Linked DNA regions of Homo sapiens: all the other regions are linked to region 1. The links come from fine-mapping of genetic effects on gene expression. A gene starts in region 1. Each other region holds a variant in brackets. All regions are shown on one strand. Distances are between the middles of the regions. Region 1 holds the start of SEC16B (SEC16 homolog B, endoplasmic reticulum export factor). Region 2 overlaps CRYZL2P-SEC16B (CRYZL2P-SEC16B readthrough). Region 3 overlaps CRYZL2P-SEC16B (CRYZL2P-SEC16B readthrough).

Region 1 (5,224 bases):
GTGCTCAAGGATTCCTGGCAAACCTGACCTAGATCTAGGTGGGTGTTCACATCCATCAGCACTAATCCGGTGGCTAAACATTAGCAGCATCATTAACAGTGATAATACTTTTGCTAGACAGGTGTCAAACTAGGGTAGTGTCTTAGTCAGTTTGGGTTACTGTAACAGAAAACCATAGACTAGGGCTTAAACAACAGAAATTTATTTCTCACCCTTCTGGAGGCTGGGAAGTCCAAGATCAAGATTCCAGCAGATCTGGTGTCTGGTGAGGGCCACTTCCTGGTTTGCAGATGGCCATCTTTTGGTTGTATTCTTACACACCAGAGAGCAGAGAGAGAGAGGAGAAGCAAACCCTCTTGTGTCTTTTTATAAGGGAACTAATTCCATTGACAAGGCTCCACTCTCATGCCCTAATTACTTCTTGGAGGCCTACCTCCTAATACCATCACATTGGGAGTTAGGTTTTCAACATATGAATTTTGGGAGGAAACAGACATTCAGTTCACAGCAGGCAGTTACTCTTGTTTGAAGCTAGACCCTAGACAGTGCTGTCCGGCATTTGGAAAGGAGGATGGAGACTGGGAAAGGAAATTCACATAAATTAGTAAACTTCTAGGACTCCAATCCTGGTGCATAGTTGGGATGCAGGGCAGGAATCAAGTATGAGGACAGAGCACTTGGGGCAGGATGATGTGAAGACTGTAGCCATTTGGGCATGAGGGAGCCTACTGGATTATCCAAGAACACTGCAGCCAGGACTTGGGGTGGCAAGACTCATTCTGGTCCACCTCCTGGTGGGGATTGAGCTCCTAATGTATTGTCAAACTGGGTCAATTTGGTTTAGAAATCAGGAAGAATTGAGCTGCCAGGTCGAAAGACTTAGTAATTGTAGTTATGTGGGGCTGGGAAGGTAGGAAATGATAAATCCTAAACCCTTTGGAGTGGTGAGATCCCATCACAATCTAGTTAATTTTGTGACCCATATAACTGTTGTATGCCATATGTCTATATAGAATAATTAAAGCTAATTAGAATTAATTTTGGTTGGTGAGTGTTTGAAGAGTTTCATAATAACTCTAGAGATAATTAGAGATACTTTGGGATGTCACAAAATAAGCATTTAGAATAATTTGACTAGATGTTTAAGCCAGGGTTGTGCAATGAAGGCTAGTAACAGAATGACAATTCTATAATTGCAAGAATGCTGAATCAGGAAGTAAGAGTTTGGGGTTCAAATCAGTATGCTGCTAAACAGGTTCTCTGAAATAAACCAGCAACCCACCAACAACCTTGCTTTGTAGCAGTTGCCAATTTCTGTGGTGTAAATACTCCCACCATGGTGGATTTCAAGTTTTCCATGGTTTAACAACCGGCTCACACAATTCCTGAATATTTAATAATCAGCTCTTACTAAACTTGCACTGGTGTGCAAGGCAGCTAGAGCACACCAGTGTAATTTTCACTGAACTTCTAGGTAACTTTGTGATCTTGGGTAAATCATTTCACTTGTTTGGATCTTGGTTTTATCATCAAAAAAGCATAGTTGCTAAAATAACCTCTAAGGTCCTTTTCAAAGTTAACATTCCCATAATGCAGCTGGTGTTACAGGGCAAGACTAATGTCACATTATATGCCAAAAGAGTGACATCAAGAACTTTTGTGAATGTTGTTGTGATATATCAGAACATATAATTTGATATCACGTCAGTGTAATCATCACCCACATTCTGATTCCTGCTGTTAATGTGCATGTTCTTCTCTAGTTCCTCTTCCCAGAAGGATTAAAAACAACAGTGCAGCCATTAGAGAGCCAAACTTCACAGCCCAAGAGTGAGGTAAGAAACCATTAGTGGCTAGGCATGGTGGCTTACGCCTGTAATCCCAGCACTTTGGGAGGCTCAGGCAGGTGGATCACAAGGTCAGGAGTTTGAGACCAGCCTGGCCAACATGATGAAACCCCTTCTTTACTAAAAATACAAAAATTAGCCAGGGGTGGTGGCACGCACCTGTAATCCCAGCTACTCGGGAGGCTGAGGCAGGAGAATTGCTTGAACCTGGGAGGTAGAGGTTGCAGTGAGCTGAGATTGTACCATTAAACTCCATCTCTGGGCGACAGAGAAAGACTCTGTCTTGGAAAAAAAAAAAAAGAAACCATTAGCTACAGTCAGAGAATTCTATGCTCAGTTGCTGGGTTCTAGAGTCAGCTGAGGGGCTGAGAGAAAATCTTGTAGCTTAGGTACATGACCCTATATGACCATGAGACCCAAGAGGGGTGGTTTTCCCTGGACTAGTAAGGACAGACATGAGAGACTAATTTGTGTCTTTTATATTTATGTGTGTCAAATCCTGGCCCTTAATAGGAACACAGTAAGCATTTGTTGAGAGAAAGAATAAACCATTTGGGATTTTTTAAAAGAGCAAATTCAGAATTTTAAAATATTAATTCAGAAGTAGTCATGTGCTTTTCTGCGTTTACCTTAATAATGCAGAAGAAATGTATATTTCAAGTGCGAGAAACTACTTTCTTGTTATAATGGAAAACTTTTTAGTGCCTTCAGTTCAGTACTGGGGATATAAATCTGCCTTCCAGCTAGATGACAGAATTTATTACATAACCAGAACCCAATGGTGAGAAATATACATAAGAAAAACCCACACTGGGCAAACCAGGTGTTTGCTCCCACCAGTGAGCGTGTCCCCTTCCCCATGTGCCTCAACCAGTGGAATTAACTTGTCTCTTTGGGAAGGAAAAGATAATATTGATCTGCAGGGCATACTTACCTATATATCATGTGCTGCTTTACCAACATTTCAGCCCCGTAATGACCCTCATAAGCTAAGCATTGCCATTCCCATTTTAAAGAAAAAGAAACTGAAACTCGGAGAGGTTAAGTAACAGAACCAGCTAGTGGTAGAGCCCCGAGTTAACACCCCAAAGGTGGTGCTTTTCTCGCCAGACCAGGCTGCCTTGGGGCTTCTGGACTTCCTCTTCCTGATGTCTCTCTTCCGTGATTGCTGTGGGAATTTGGATGATTTCTCATGTGAGTGAACCTGGCTCAGCCCATGCTCAGGCAAACAGAAGCGCCAGTCTCTGACAGGGTTCTGAGCAAATTCGTCAAGTCAGGCGGGTCCTGGGCTGCGGTATCTGGGCTGTACTTTGCCCTAATGAATCAGCTCCATGGAGGTTGGGCAGTTGCAAAGGTAACTGACATGATGTAGATCTGAGGGCCTGGGGAGTCTTGGTAGATGTGGCACCTGGACTTTGACAGTCTCCAAGAGGAGAGGAGGCACTCTTGGGCCAGGTCCCTGGAGCAGCGCTGAAGGAAGGTGGGAAGCCATCAGAGCAGGTGTGTGGGAACACTCGCTCCCTTCTTTCCCCTCTTTGAGCTGGACGTGCTGTGCCGTCAGATTAGGAAAGGCAAGATTGCCTTTACTGGGGCTAGGAAAGGTCATCTACATGAATGTGTGAGTCTGATTTGTCATCATAGATGTAATTCCTTCATTTTGAGAATCGAAGGTGTTATTTATTTGGTGTCCTTAATCTGAGGACTGATTTGCTGGAGTTGATGTCTCTTGGCAGCAAAATGATGTGATTTCAGTGGAAAGATTGGGTGTTGCACCTTTGCAGTTGGGAAAGGGCTGCCTAATGAGACTATCTGGGGACAAGGAGAAAGCAGGTTTCTTCTCATTCTGCTTACTTGGTCCAAATGGTTTTGAGTTCCACCAGCCTTCAGAAAAGGCTCATGTGCCCTTCCCTGTGTCTGGGACATTTGGCCTTTCCTGGGATTTGCTGGCAAAGGCTGTCATTGCACCTGGCTTTTTCAAGGGAGTGAGATGATATGGGAAGGAAGCCAGAGGTTCCCCTGAGTTGTGAGTGACCTTGAGGTGGGAGGCCCCCTCCGCACCTTGTTCTTCTTGTGTGTTCTGCCGTCTCATAGCTCTTGGCTCATAGCTGTCGACCTCGGCTCCCTGGTGTTTGAGCAGAGTGACGTCTCAATTTCAACACCCACTCTTTTGACCTTTTGTTCTGATATGAATTTTTATATGAGGCTGGGACCTTCAGTAGTGGAAACAAGTTAACTGATTTGATCAGAATCTTGCAACCTAAAACAGTTCCTAAGGAAGAAAAAAATCGAGGCCGACCTAGCCTGTGGATGCTCCTGACACAAGGAATCCCTGAGCAAGAGTAAGATCTGAGGCGTGCTTTCCTTTTGTGGGTGCAACCCCTGTCCCCCGCTACCCCGTGCAATGGGCAGAGGAACCTGGAAGGTAATCAGTCCTTGGAGCAATTTCCCTTTTTCAGGATTACGTGGGGGAAAATTAGTTTGATGCTAGGGAGACTTTCAGCATTTAAAATCTCCAACCGGGAAGAATCCTGAGATATGGCCTTCTATTTTCTTATGAAAACAATCCCAAATTTGCCTCTTGTTGGCTCCTCTGGAGGAGGAGCAGGTATGACCATATTATATAGGTTCTAGTTCTTTGAGGGGGTTAATGTAAGGATTCAGAAAAGGTGCTTCTTGAAAAGGTCAGTCTAAATTTCTTTTTGTTTAATAAACATCTTCAGCCACTCATACTACCCTAATCTTTATCCTTGATAACACTGCTATTTATTGAGCATTTTAACATGTTAGGTAACATGTTACGCACTTCGCATAGGTTATCTTTAACTCTGTCAATAACCTTGCAAGGTAGTCCTTACAGTCTCCATTTCATGGGTAAGGAAATTGAGGCTTGAAAAAATGAACTAGCTAGTTAAGTGGCAGAGTTAGGATTTGAACTCTGATCTAGCTCTCTGCAAGACCCACTCTGTTTATGATACCACAGGGCCTCCGCTGTAAGTGTTAAATAAACACTTGCTGGGGGAATATGTGAAGAAACATCAACTGGGATTCCTTGATAGCATTTTTAGCTGTACCTATTATTGTTATCTGTCTCCCTTGCCTCCCTCATCTGTCGTTGTTCCACATGTACTTTTTAATTTTTTAAGCAATATTAATATAATTGTCTAGTCTGTTATTTGCTTCATGTATCTGAGATTGTTTCTCAGATTTCTCTGTATCCGTGACCATATGGTTTGTTTTAGATATATTTCGAGGACCATAGCTGCTCTTTTCACAAAACCTAATCAACCACTATGTTTGGATATAGGCTTCAAGTGATGATTTTTTCCTTTTTCTTTTGTCTGCAGGAAGATAAAATAACTGCACAACTTACTCAAAAC
Region 2 (5,224 bases), 36 kb after region 1:
CAGCCCAGTCCATCTCTCCACTGGGTACAGCAGGGCAAATGGAGCCACTCCTGCCATCCAAATGATTACATAGTTTCTAGGAGAGAGATTACAGGGTGGAAAAATATAGGCCAAGTTCTCTTTCTCCAATCATCCTGCACTCAAGAGCTTACTATCAGGCTCTCCAGCAGAAACCCATGTTTCTGTCTTGGTCCCGAGTTTCTTCAGGCCCATCAGACCTTCGACAACAAGGGCTGAGTATGGGTAAGCAATGCTGAGTGATGCCAGGGAGATGGTGGAAGCCATCTAGAATGATTAGCTCTTAGACCTTCCAGGATTAGGTCCTGTCCAAGATGGAGGCTCAGATGGAGAGGAGTGGTGGAGGATCCCTGTGACCTAGCTTGATGTTGCTCTGATTTCCAAGATTCCTGAAGAGTGGCTTTGGAAGTAGAGGATGAGTTGAACAGCATGTCCTGGGGTGGCTGGGATTGAGATGAGCTACGTGAGCATTCTTTGTATTTGCTGTGATTGGCTTGGGCTTATGGGCTCCGAGCTTCTGCTGCAGTTAAGAAAGCTGATTGTGTCCCAGTTACCCTTCTTCAGGATAGATGGGAAAAGCACAACTTCCAATTGCTATTTCCATTTCTGTTTGTGATGCAGGAGAGAACACAGTGTCTCAAGAAACTTCCCAGCCTCCTGATGGCCAAGAGGTCATTTCCAAACCACAGGTGAGAGCGCACAGCATAAAAGATGCCACTGCCCACTCAAATGCTTCTGGTTTTTACCAGTTGCCTTGGTTTCCCAGCCACATGCAAGCTCCTCCTCAGTGTTGCAGCAGCTTTCTCTTCCACATCTCGCCTTGCCTTTTCCTATTCCAACTCCTGGGAGCTGGGCGGGAGGCTGTGTTCTTGTTTACGCTCAGCCCCACAAACCTGTGTCCATGGGGAGAGAGGGAGCAACTGAGCTGATTCGTTTTGGCCTCTCAGATCTCTGTTACCTCTGACATCTTCTCAGTGCTGCACAAAACGCTTGCCCTACCCTGTCCTGCCATGGAAGACTGTTGATATTTCCTTGTTTTAATTTTTACCTGGCTTTATTTCAAAGAAAGATCTGTGGTAGCTGTGACAGTGCCTGCCTGTCTTTTCTCCTCAGTTAGGCTGTAAGGTCCTCATGTCTGGTGAATCATTCCATCTAGCTCTGATTGGACACACCCCTGCCCTCAGCAATGGGCAGTGTTGGTCCCAAACCTGAGGCGTTCTTCAGCTTCTCCTGGTTGGAGGGTTACATCCTATAACTTTTTAAAGTAGAAAAACAGGGGTACAGGTCTTAACAAACTTTAATGTTTTTCCGTTTTTTTTTTTTTCCTGACTGAAGTGGTACATTATTGTTATAGAAAAATCTAATAGTGAAGTATCATATAAAGAATCAAATATCATTCAATCCAACAGTCAGAATATTTTTCTTTTCTTATACTATTTTTCTATATATACACACATATACTCACATATATGTATATCTGTATATACATTATACACATATACATGTTTTTAAATGGCTAAGAACATATGTATGCAAAGCTTTATTTCATATCTGTTACTTAACACTCTATGAGATTTTTCTATGTCATTCATAAATATGATTTTTAATATTGGCATGACGAAATTGATTTTATGAAAGTAGCGCTATTCATTCATTTATTTGAAATATTCACTGAGTTCCTACAATGTGCCAGACCCTGTCACAGGGGCTGGGGAGGCATCAGCACATCAGACCAAGCCTAACCTCAGGCGCTCAAGTCTAGTGGAAGTGACTAAAAATAGACAACTATACGCGCCAGGCATCTCACTTCAGAGGGGTGGCCAAGGAAGGTGTCTCTGAGGAGGCCTTCAAGTGGAGATCAGGGTGGAGCATGGAAATGAGCCAGGTGAATATCTGGGGGAAAGGTGTTTGAGGCAGAGAAACAGCAGGACTGGAGGCCCTGCAGTGGCTCCCTTGGTGTAGTTAAGGGAGAGCAAGGGAGCCACTGTGCCCTGAGAGTGGGGAGCAGTAGGGAGGAGGGCTGAGAAACAAGGCTGGAGGGCAGCAGAGGTAAACTTATGGGGCCTCCACGACCATGGTAAGGAGCTCGCATTCTGGTGGATCATTCCCATGTTGTCGTTAATCATTGTGAGTGTTGCGTCCTTTCCCCTCCCTCCCTCCATTCCTCCTTCCTTTTCTCACTCATATATAACACACAGTGCTGGTCATCCTAGTATATAAGCCCTTGTCTATGTCTTGAATCATTCACTTAGAAGAAATTCCTAGAAGGAAAGCCAGACAGCCTACTTTTAACCTTTGCTGTGCCATTTATGAGCTGTGTGACCCGACACAGGTTGCTTAACCTTTCTGTGCCTTAGTTTTCTTATATATAAAATGAGATAATAATAGCACCTAGCTCACAGGACTATTGTAAGGATTAAATGAATCACTACATATAAAGCCCTTAAAACAGTGCCCGGCACAAAGTCAACACTATATTCATTTGAATAAAAAATAAAGTTTTTTTCTTTATTTTCCTAAAGTATTTCCAAAGGTTTGTATCAATTGTGCTCTATTGAGAGTAAAAAATGTAAATATAACAGAAGAGGGCAATATGTCATATGACTCCACCTACGTGAGATACATAGAATAGGCAAATTCAGAGACATAAAGTGGAATGGCAGTGACCAGGGCCTGGGGGAAGGGGAGATGGGGAGTTAGGTAATGGGGATGATGAAAAAGTTCTGGAGATGGCTAGTGGTGATGGTTGTACGACACTGTGTGTATACTTACTGCCACTGAATTGTACATTTAAAAATAGTTAAAATGGCAAGCTTTATCCTGTATCTATCTTACCACAAAAAAAAAAAAAGTTAATGTAAAGGGATGTGGGTGTATTTTACCCCCCTTTGGTGCATATGTTCACAGTTGAGCTTGAGCAAGTCTGTTAGGAAATGAGCTCTAAGATGAGTTATGTTTGGTGGTTGCTACATTCTCTGTTTTTTTTTTTTTGGGGGGAGCTTGTGGGCCTCTGTGGG[T/G]TGTTTTCTGGCCCTCTTCATCTCCAGCAGTAGCAGTCCATACCCCCTACTCCAGGCCTTGGCATAGTTCTGAAAACTGTCTGTTTCTGGAGAGGTGGCACACCAGACAAAGGTCTGTAGAATTAGGGATAACATGGGCTTGGGCTCTGTCCTTATCCTGCGACCTTCAGTGAGTCATTTTTCATGGCTGAGCCTTCCTTCCTCTTCAGTACAATATGATCCTGAGACAACAGTCCCACTGCCTTCTGAGCAGGTCAGGTGAGGGAGTATGTGCAAATGTGTTTGGTAACCTGTCAAGTGCCATGCAAATGTGAGTTATTTCTTTAATTCCAGACACCATTGGCTGCTAGACCACGAAGTATTTCTGAGAGTTCCGCCAGTTCAGCCAAGGAGGATGAGAAGGAGTCCTCTGATGAGGCTGATAAAAACTCTCCCCGAAATACTGCCCAGAGAGGCAAGCTCGGAGATGGGAAGGAGCATACAAAGGTGGAGGGACTTGTTCTTCTCTCCCCTGCCTTCCTTCCCCTGCCATTCCCTTCCTCGAGGGTGGTGCAGACTTGGAAGTCTGGGCTCTGATGGTTACATGGGGGCGGGTTAACCTCATAGTTGGGGAAGAAGCCAACCTGCAGGTCATAAAATGTCCTCTTCCCCTTCCAGAGCTCAGGGTTTGGCTGGTTCAGCTGGTTTCGATCGAAGCCCACCAAGAACGCATCCCCCGCTGGAGACGAGGACTCCTCAGACAGCCCTGACTCTGAGGTAGGCTCTGTGGGAGGGGGAGGATGCCCCTCTCTGTGGGTCTTTCAGAGGGAGCTGCCTCAGCACCTAGGAGCTCTCAGAGCTGGCACCTGAGTCTACCCCAGGCCACATGAGACAGAGGTTTTGTGATGGGATATGGTGGGAAATGAATGGGTCCTGTGAGGGCAAAGGCAGATTAAAAAAGCTTTAAAAAGTTTGGATGAAGAAATGTAACTTTAGAGGGTCAGCAGTAGGGAGCTAGTGTGGATTGTTGAGCAGAAGAGTGGGATGAGGAGGGGGGTTTTGGGGAGTGCCCAGCAGCAGTTTGTGGCAAGGCCGCCATCGTGAGTGTGGGAACACAAATTGGCGGGCATCAATTTGTTAACTGCCAATGTTGCCAATGCTGCCTTTCTTTCTCCACAAAGCAGGAGACCCCCAGAGCATCTTCTCCCCACCAGGCTGGCCTGGGCCTCTCACTGACACCTTCCCCTGAGTCCCCACCTCTGCCGGATGTTAGTGCCTTCTCCAGGGGCAGAGGTACCGTCACCTCACGTCCTCTGGGCCATGGGTGGTCCCCTCAGCACTCCCAAGGGTTGGGGTGCCTTCTGGGAGTGGGGACCCCCAGTCCTGAGCAGAGGAAACAGCTCTGCCTCATTACTTTCCAGGTGGGGGTGAAGGCCGAGGATCCGCATCCAGCGGGGGAGCAGCTGCGGGCGCTGGGGTTGGAGGCTTGTCTGGACCAGAGGTAAGCGGCCCCCCTGGGCTGGAGCCTCGGACCCCAGCAGATGCCTGTGTGTGAGGACTGAACCTTCAGTGTGGGCAGTGCTGACTCCTGGCGAACCTGAAGAATGCTTCTCTGCTGTGTTAGTTTGCTCAGGCTGTCATAACAAAGTACCACAGAACAGAGGCTCAGACCACAGAAACCGAATTTCTCACAGTTCTCCAGGCTGAAAGCTGAGGTCCAGGTTTCAGCAGGGTTGTGTCTTTTGAGACCTCTTTCCTTGGCTTGTGCCCGGCCATCTTCTTTCCACGTCTTCACATGGCCTTTCCTCTGAGCGTGTCTGTGTTCAGATTTCTTCCTCTTATAGGGACATCAGTCATACTGGAATGGGCTACCAATATGACCTCCATTTATGTTAATTGCCTCTTTAAAGACCCCATCTCCAAATGTTGTATTTTTATGTTTCTCCAAACATATGTTTTCTGAGGTACTGGGGGTTAGGGCTTCAACACGTGATTTTTTTTTTTTCTGGGAACACAGTTCAACCTATAACAGCTTCCTCGGGGGAAGCCTGGGGACTTGCCTTTTTCCCTGTCCCAGGAGGAGGTGGAGTTCACTGGAGACCTTGGCCAGGGCTGTGACAAATTCTTGATGAGTTGTCCACATCAGTATGGATTTCATATCTATTGCTAGGAAAACATTTTTATTTCTTTAAGTCTGGTTAGATAACTCT
Region 3 (5,224 bases), 43 kb after region 1:
CTGCTCCAACCCTGGTGTTCTTCTTCCTCCACCTGCCTTAAAAGGGGCTGTTCCTCTTTACAACCCATCTCAGGTGCCTCAGGTAAGGAAGCCCTCAGGGGGAGGGGCTGGCCAGGAGTACAGGTTTTGGATTAAGGAGACCTAGGTTTATCATCCCAGTTTACCATTTATGATATGTGAGTTCTTGAGCAATTATTTAGCCTCTCCAAGTCTCAGTTTCTGCATCTGTAAAGTGGGATTAGTAGTAGCTAGCTCAGAGATATGTATATGAAGGGCCTGGAACCCAGAAAATGGTCAATAAATGTAGTTACTATTAATATCATGTTTAAATTTTAATAGCTCTTGAGATGTGGGAGACACAGTTGGTGTTGGTATCAGTAGTGTGGGTGCAGTGTCACTCTGTCCTGGGGATGAAGGGATCATTGGAAACTTTGAGAGAAGCTAAGTTCCCTGTTCCTCAGCAATCTGGGTAGACTTAGCTCTGCTAATGTCTCATTTGGCCTCCTCTCTTTATAAAAATCAAATTTCTTTTACCACAGTTAGGTGAAGGGTTGGGTGGAGGTACGCAATTAGAACACAACCTTGGGAAATGTTCTACACAGAGGCTCAGGGTGCCCTAGCTCCATCTGTCCAATCAACCCCGGGCAGAGTCATGTTTGGGGCTGTACTCAGTGTAATATTTGTTCTTCTTTTCCAGCTGCCCACGGCCACTAGCCTGAATCGGCCAAATCGCCTAGCTCAGCGTCGCTATCCCACCCAGCCATGCTGAGAATAAACACACGTCCCAGGCTCATCTCCCAGGACTGAAACTTTCTTGCTCTCTTTTTCTCAATCTCCCAGCCCCTCTCTACCATATTGGGACCCTCAAGAGGTTTGTGCTAGCCCGATGCCTCCACCGGGCACTTAGAAGGCAAGAGGACAGGATCTCTCAAGACACAGCACAATTCAGTCTCTTAAGATTAGCTTCACAATGATGGAAATTATTTCATCAGGTGGAAAGTCTGGGTCTAATAGCAGACTGCACATGAGCAGAGTGACATGGTGGTGGCACTTATGGTGGTGGCTTGAGAGCCTTGGGGAAATTAGGGCCCTAACAGCTAGAATCAAAGATGATACCGCAGGGCCCTGTAGCAAGAAATGGGAAGCAGGGGGAGGGGCAGGGGCTCAGAACAATATTCTAGACCAACTTTGACTACTTCCTGTCTTAGTAATAGACCAATACATGGCTCTATTTAGCAAAGTTTTTATACTGAAACTTGATTATTGCTGCCCTTTATAATTTCCTCTTCAATGATATTTCAGCAGTTTCCCTCTTGGTCCTAGTTTTGTGCACATTTTTTTGAATGTGGTTCAGATTAATTATATTTCTCTCACTTTCTTAGCTGGTCCTATTTTTTCACATTCTGGCATGTGGCTATCAAGTTAGATTGCTGTAGGCATCATATTGTCATGGTAACTACTGAACCTAATGATGCAGATGGATGGCACATCAGTATAATAAATGATGGAAAACGGTTCCTAAAAATTCATCCCTTTCATAAGAGGGGAAGAATGAGTGCCTGATATTGTTAATACCTCCCTTTCTACCTCAGGCCTTTGCAAATTGATGTTCAGAGGGTCACTGGAGTGAGAGGGAGGAGGGGGGCGTCTTGGAAATTTCCATTTCTCTTTTCAAACCCAAAATAGGAATGACTCTTGCTGTTTGTCAGATTTGCTGAAAATTGCTCCTCACAAAGAACATTTTTTTTTGTACATGTAATTGTAAATACAGGTTTAGTACGTTAATGTTCTATAGTTCTGATATTGATAATAATTAAACCCAGATAATTTTATAGCAAATGCTTGTCTCTGGCTGATTTTTACAGAGGAAGAAAGTACATTGGTGGTCTCTTCCCTGAAGTCTTTCTAATAATGGTTTTATTGTGTGATCAAGTGTGAATAGCTGGAAAGAGCCCTTTGTTAATGAGGAATCTAGGGACAGATCCTCTTAACTTCTAAGTCTACTCTAATTTTATTATTTTTCCAATTTAAAAAATATGAACAAAAAGCTCCTCTGATGCAAGTCAGTCACTTTACTAACTGAACTAAGTGTTGTATATTTTGTTCCATAAAAAGTTGTTTTTAACCTCTTAGATTAAATTAGAAAATGTATGCATAAATGTTTTGCACCTGGAAGGCCCTCAGTAAATGCTGTTCCGCTTTTTTCCTTAAAAGGCTGCTGCTCCTTCAATTTGGTATGCTGACATCCAGTGGTGGTGCTGTGGCATTAGTGTGTGAGTTTCACAGGAGCCACACTGCTTAGTCTTGCATCCTGGCTCATCCGTAGCTCACCCTGTAACTTTGGGCAAGGTTACCTCACTGTCTTGTATTTCAGTTTTCTCATCTATAAAATTAAGATGATAATAATCATAGTACCTGCCCTACAGGGACATTGCAAAAATTAAATGAGTTAGGCCCTTAGAAATGGGCCTGGTATATGCTAGGTACAGTTGGCCCTTGAACAAAATGAGTTTGAACTGTGTGGGTCCACTTATACTTGGATTTTATTCTGCCTCTGCCTGTCCAAGACAGTAAGACCAACCCCTCTTCTTCCTCCTCCGCAGCCTACTGAATGTGAAGACTATGAAGATGAAGACCTTTATGATGATCCACTTTCACTTAATGAAGGGTCAATATATTTTCTCTTTCTTATGATTTTCTTAATCATGTTTTTTCTCTAGCTTACTTTAAGAATACAGTGTATAATACATATAACATATACAATATGTGTTAATTGACTGTTTAT[A/G]TTATCAATAAGGCTTCCAGTCAACAGTGGGCTATCAGCAGCTGAGTTTTTGGGGAGTCAAAAATCATATGTGGATTTTTGACTTTGCAGGGCTCAGTGCCCATCATGTCCACATTGTTCAAAGCTCAACTGTACTTTATTACAGTGTCTTTTATTGTTAATTTGCAATCTAATAAGATCTGGACTGTTTTTTTTGGGCCTACCAGATCTGACTATAGATTTTTTGTTCTTGATACCTGTATAGGACAGGAATGATGATTAAAACATACTTCTCAATATGTGTCATTGCCAAGTCAGTTTCTCTTCCTGCATCCCTTCTAACACCAACATTAGGCCATGAGGCTTTGTGCCCATGGGAGCAATGGCGTAGGGGAGGTCCTGTCCAAGAAATAAAGCACTTTAGGGGAGGAGATTGCAGACCAAAGAGGAAGGCACAGATGTCGGATGCCTGTGTCCTCATGTCCTCCTCCCGTTAAGAGAATTCATGGAATACCAGTGGCTACTGTCATGCTCAACAAAGCAAGCACTGAGTTTAGTTACCTCCCAGGCCAAAGGAATACAGAGCAATGAATATACTTTCTGAAGAGGAAGAGTCAGGGGTTTCTGTGCACTAGGAAGGGAGGAGGTTCTTGGTGTTTATGGTGATTCATAATTGAAAGATTTTACTCTGGCAAAGTCCGAATGTGTCGTTAATCTGTGTATGCTTGGTTAAAACAAGCCCAGTTGCTCATTGGTTAGGAATGTTAGGTCCAGTAAGGGTCTGAGGAACTGGGGTCACTCCCAGTTCTTAGTTGCCCATCTGTGTTCTTTGGGTAGTGGTGGTGGTATTGCTAAAGGTCATGGTTATTTTACAACTTCAACTGGTTAAAATCTGTTGTAGTGAAACAAAGCAAGTGCAGCTGTCAGAAGAAAATATTGTTTTCTCCTTTGATAAGGTGGAGGCTTGGGAAGGAGGCTTGGGAAATAGAGCAGGTTGTGACAGATATACACTGCTATGAAAGGGAGCATACTGGGCTAGTGGCCCTTTCCTCTAGCTCCCCTGGTAATCTTGGGAAGGGAGGCTGCAAGACTTGAGGAGAAGCTGGCTTTGGCTTGGCAGTGTGTCCAATGTGTCTGGGGAGCCATAGCAGCTTGGCTTTGGGGATCTGAGGCAGAGCTCCGAGCTCCCTGAAGCCTGCTGTAGTGTAGACTCTAGCAGAGAATAATTGCATAATGACCCCAAAGGCCAGATGGGACAAGTAGTATCCCAAAAGGCAAAAGGTCAGGAGTGGGCCAGACCAGCCACCAGCAATGAATAGGCCACACTGTGAAGGTCATAGCCCTCTTTTCCATCACCATGAGCTGTTTGGGGAGAGAGAATGAACAGAATTCTCTTTCTCTCTCAAAAAATGAAAGATCAAAAGACATGGTATGAAAGGGAAGAGCCTGAGATAATATTAATTGGCAAGTTTGTTTTTTCACCTGCTTCTTAACAGGATCCAAGCTTGGAGGAAAAATAGATCAGTCATAGGAAATGAGCCACACTTTCCTTGAAAAGCTGAGTAGTAGTGTGCAAATTTATGATTCTGCTATATACATATAATTCAATATTTATATGAAAACATTTAAACTTAATGTTCTATAATTTGAAAGTGAACAAACCACTAAATTCCATTTCAGGGTCTTTATCACATGTTACCATTCCAGCCCTCTGTCTAATCCCCTCATGTGGCTATAGAGCTGTAAATGAGCCGTGAGTCCTCAGTGACCTGTGTGTCCTCTCTGTTCAGCCCTCTCGCAGGCTTCAGGTTGCTCAGGATCAAAGCCTCTGCTAGCTTTGTTTTCCCCTAGAAAGTCTCTTTCTTTTTGGTCTCTTCCTCTGAGTAACCAAGAAGAGGAGCAAGAGACTGCATCTACTTCTTCACTAAAATCAGAAGATTTTCTACCCAAGAGGGAATGTGCAAAACCCTCTTTCTTCTTGAAAAGAATAATAGGTGTGTAATTTGGGTCTCTCCAATCACATGAGTTTCTCTCTCACTTTTTCCCCCAAAGAGTGGAATGGAAGTGACTTTTTCCCTCTTCTGTTTGCTGTCTTAAGCTGAAAATTGCATGAAGCATGATCTGCAAGCAACAGAATGTTAGGTACTTAACTGAGGTTGTCCCTAAATGTGGCCTCAACAACGGCCTGTTTTCATTTCGTTAATTGGCCATACTTATACCAGGCATCATTCATTCGGGTCCTTTAGAAATGGTTTCTTAATGAGATTTAAAGTTATTCTGAACAAGGATTAACAGCATATGAAAATGTTTTCTTTACAATCGCACTAGGTAGAGGAATCTTGTTCCCATACTTTCTTTCTTTTTGTATATTCCTGTTTCCAGATAATCAGGGTCAACAGCAGTTTAACTCAAACTCAACTGACCTTTGCAAACTGCTTGTTATTTTACTGTGAGATGTTT

Evidence for each region. PIP is the estimated chance that this variant, and not a neighbour inherited with it, causes the effect. A credible set is the group of variants that fine-mapping cannot tell apart.
Region 2: its variant is the best candidate, but not a certain one, in a credible set for the expression of SEC16B in tibial nerve (GTEx, PIP 0.75).
Region 3: its variant is the best candidate, but not a certain one, in a credible set for the expression of SEC16B in tibial nerve (GTEx, PIP 0.52).

What each region holds. Positions count from the first base shown.
Region 1 is chr1:177,968,007-177,973,230 of GRCh38, reverse strand. SEC16B (SEC16 homolog B, endoplasmic reticulum export factor) reads left to right here and starts at 3,173. Exons shown (of 26, transcript NM_033127.4): 1 at 3,173-3,347; 2 at 5,192-5,224. It overlaps CRYZL2P-SEC16B (CRYZL2P-SEC16B readthrough), which reads left to right. Exons shown (of 32, transcript NM_001356506.2): 8 at 5,192-5,224.
Region 2 is chr1:177,931,781-177,937,004 of GRCh38, reverse strand. It overlaps CRYZL2P-SEC16B (CRYZL2P-SEC16B readthrough), which reads left to right. Exons shown (of 32, transcript NM_001356506.2): 26 at 640-707; 27 at 3,369-3,521; 28 at 3,693-3,791; 29 at 4,196-4,307; 30 at 4,436-4,515. It overlaps SEC16B (SEC16 homolog B, endoplasmic reticulum export factor), which reads left to right. Exons shown (of 26, transcript NM_033127.4): 20 at 640-707; 21 at 3,369-3,521; 22 at 3,693-3,791; 23 at 4,199-4,307; 24 at 4,436-4,515. Among named protein-coding and RNA genes, the nearest start is that of SEC16B, 36 kb to the left of the region's middle. RefSeq lists an enhancer at 1-165. The variant T/G (reference allele first, on the strand shown) is at 3,036.
Region 3 is chr1:177,925,403-177,930,626 of GRCh38, reverse strand. It overlaps CRYZL2P-SEC16B (CRYZL2P-SEC16B readthrough), which reads left to right. Exons shown (of 32, transcript NM_001356506.2): 31 at 1-82; 32 at 698-1,839. The coding sequence ends at 769. It overlaps SEC16B (SEC16 homolog B, endoplasmic reticulum export factor), which reads left to right. Exons shown (of 26, transcript NM_033127.4): 25 at 1-82; 26 at 698-1,839. The coding sequence ends at 769. Among named protein-coding and RNA genes, the nearest start is that of SEC16B, 42 kb to the left of the region's middle. The variant A/G (reference allele first, on the strand shown) is at 2,786.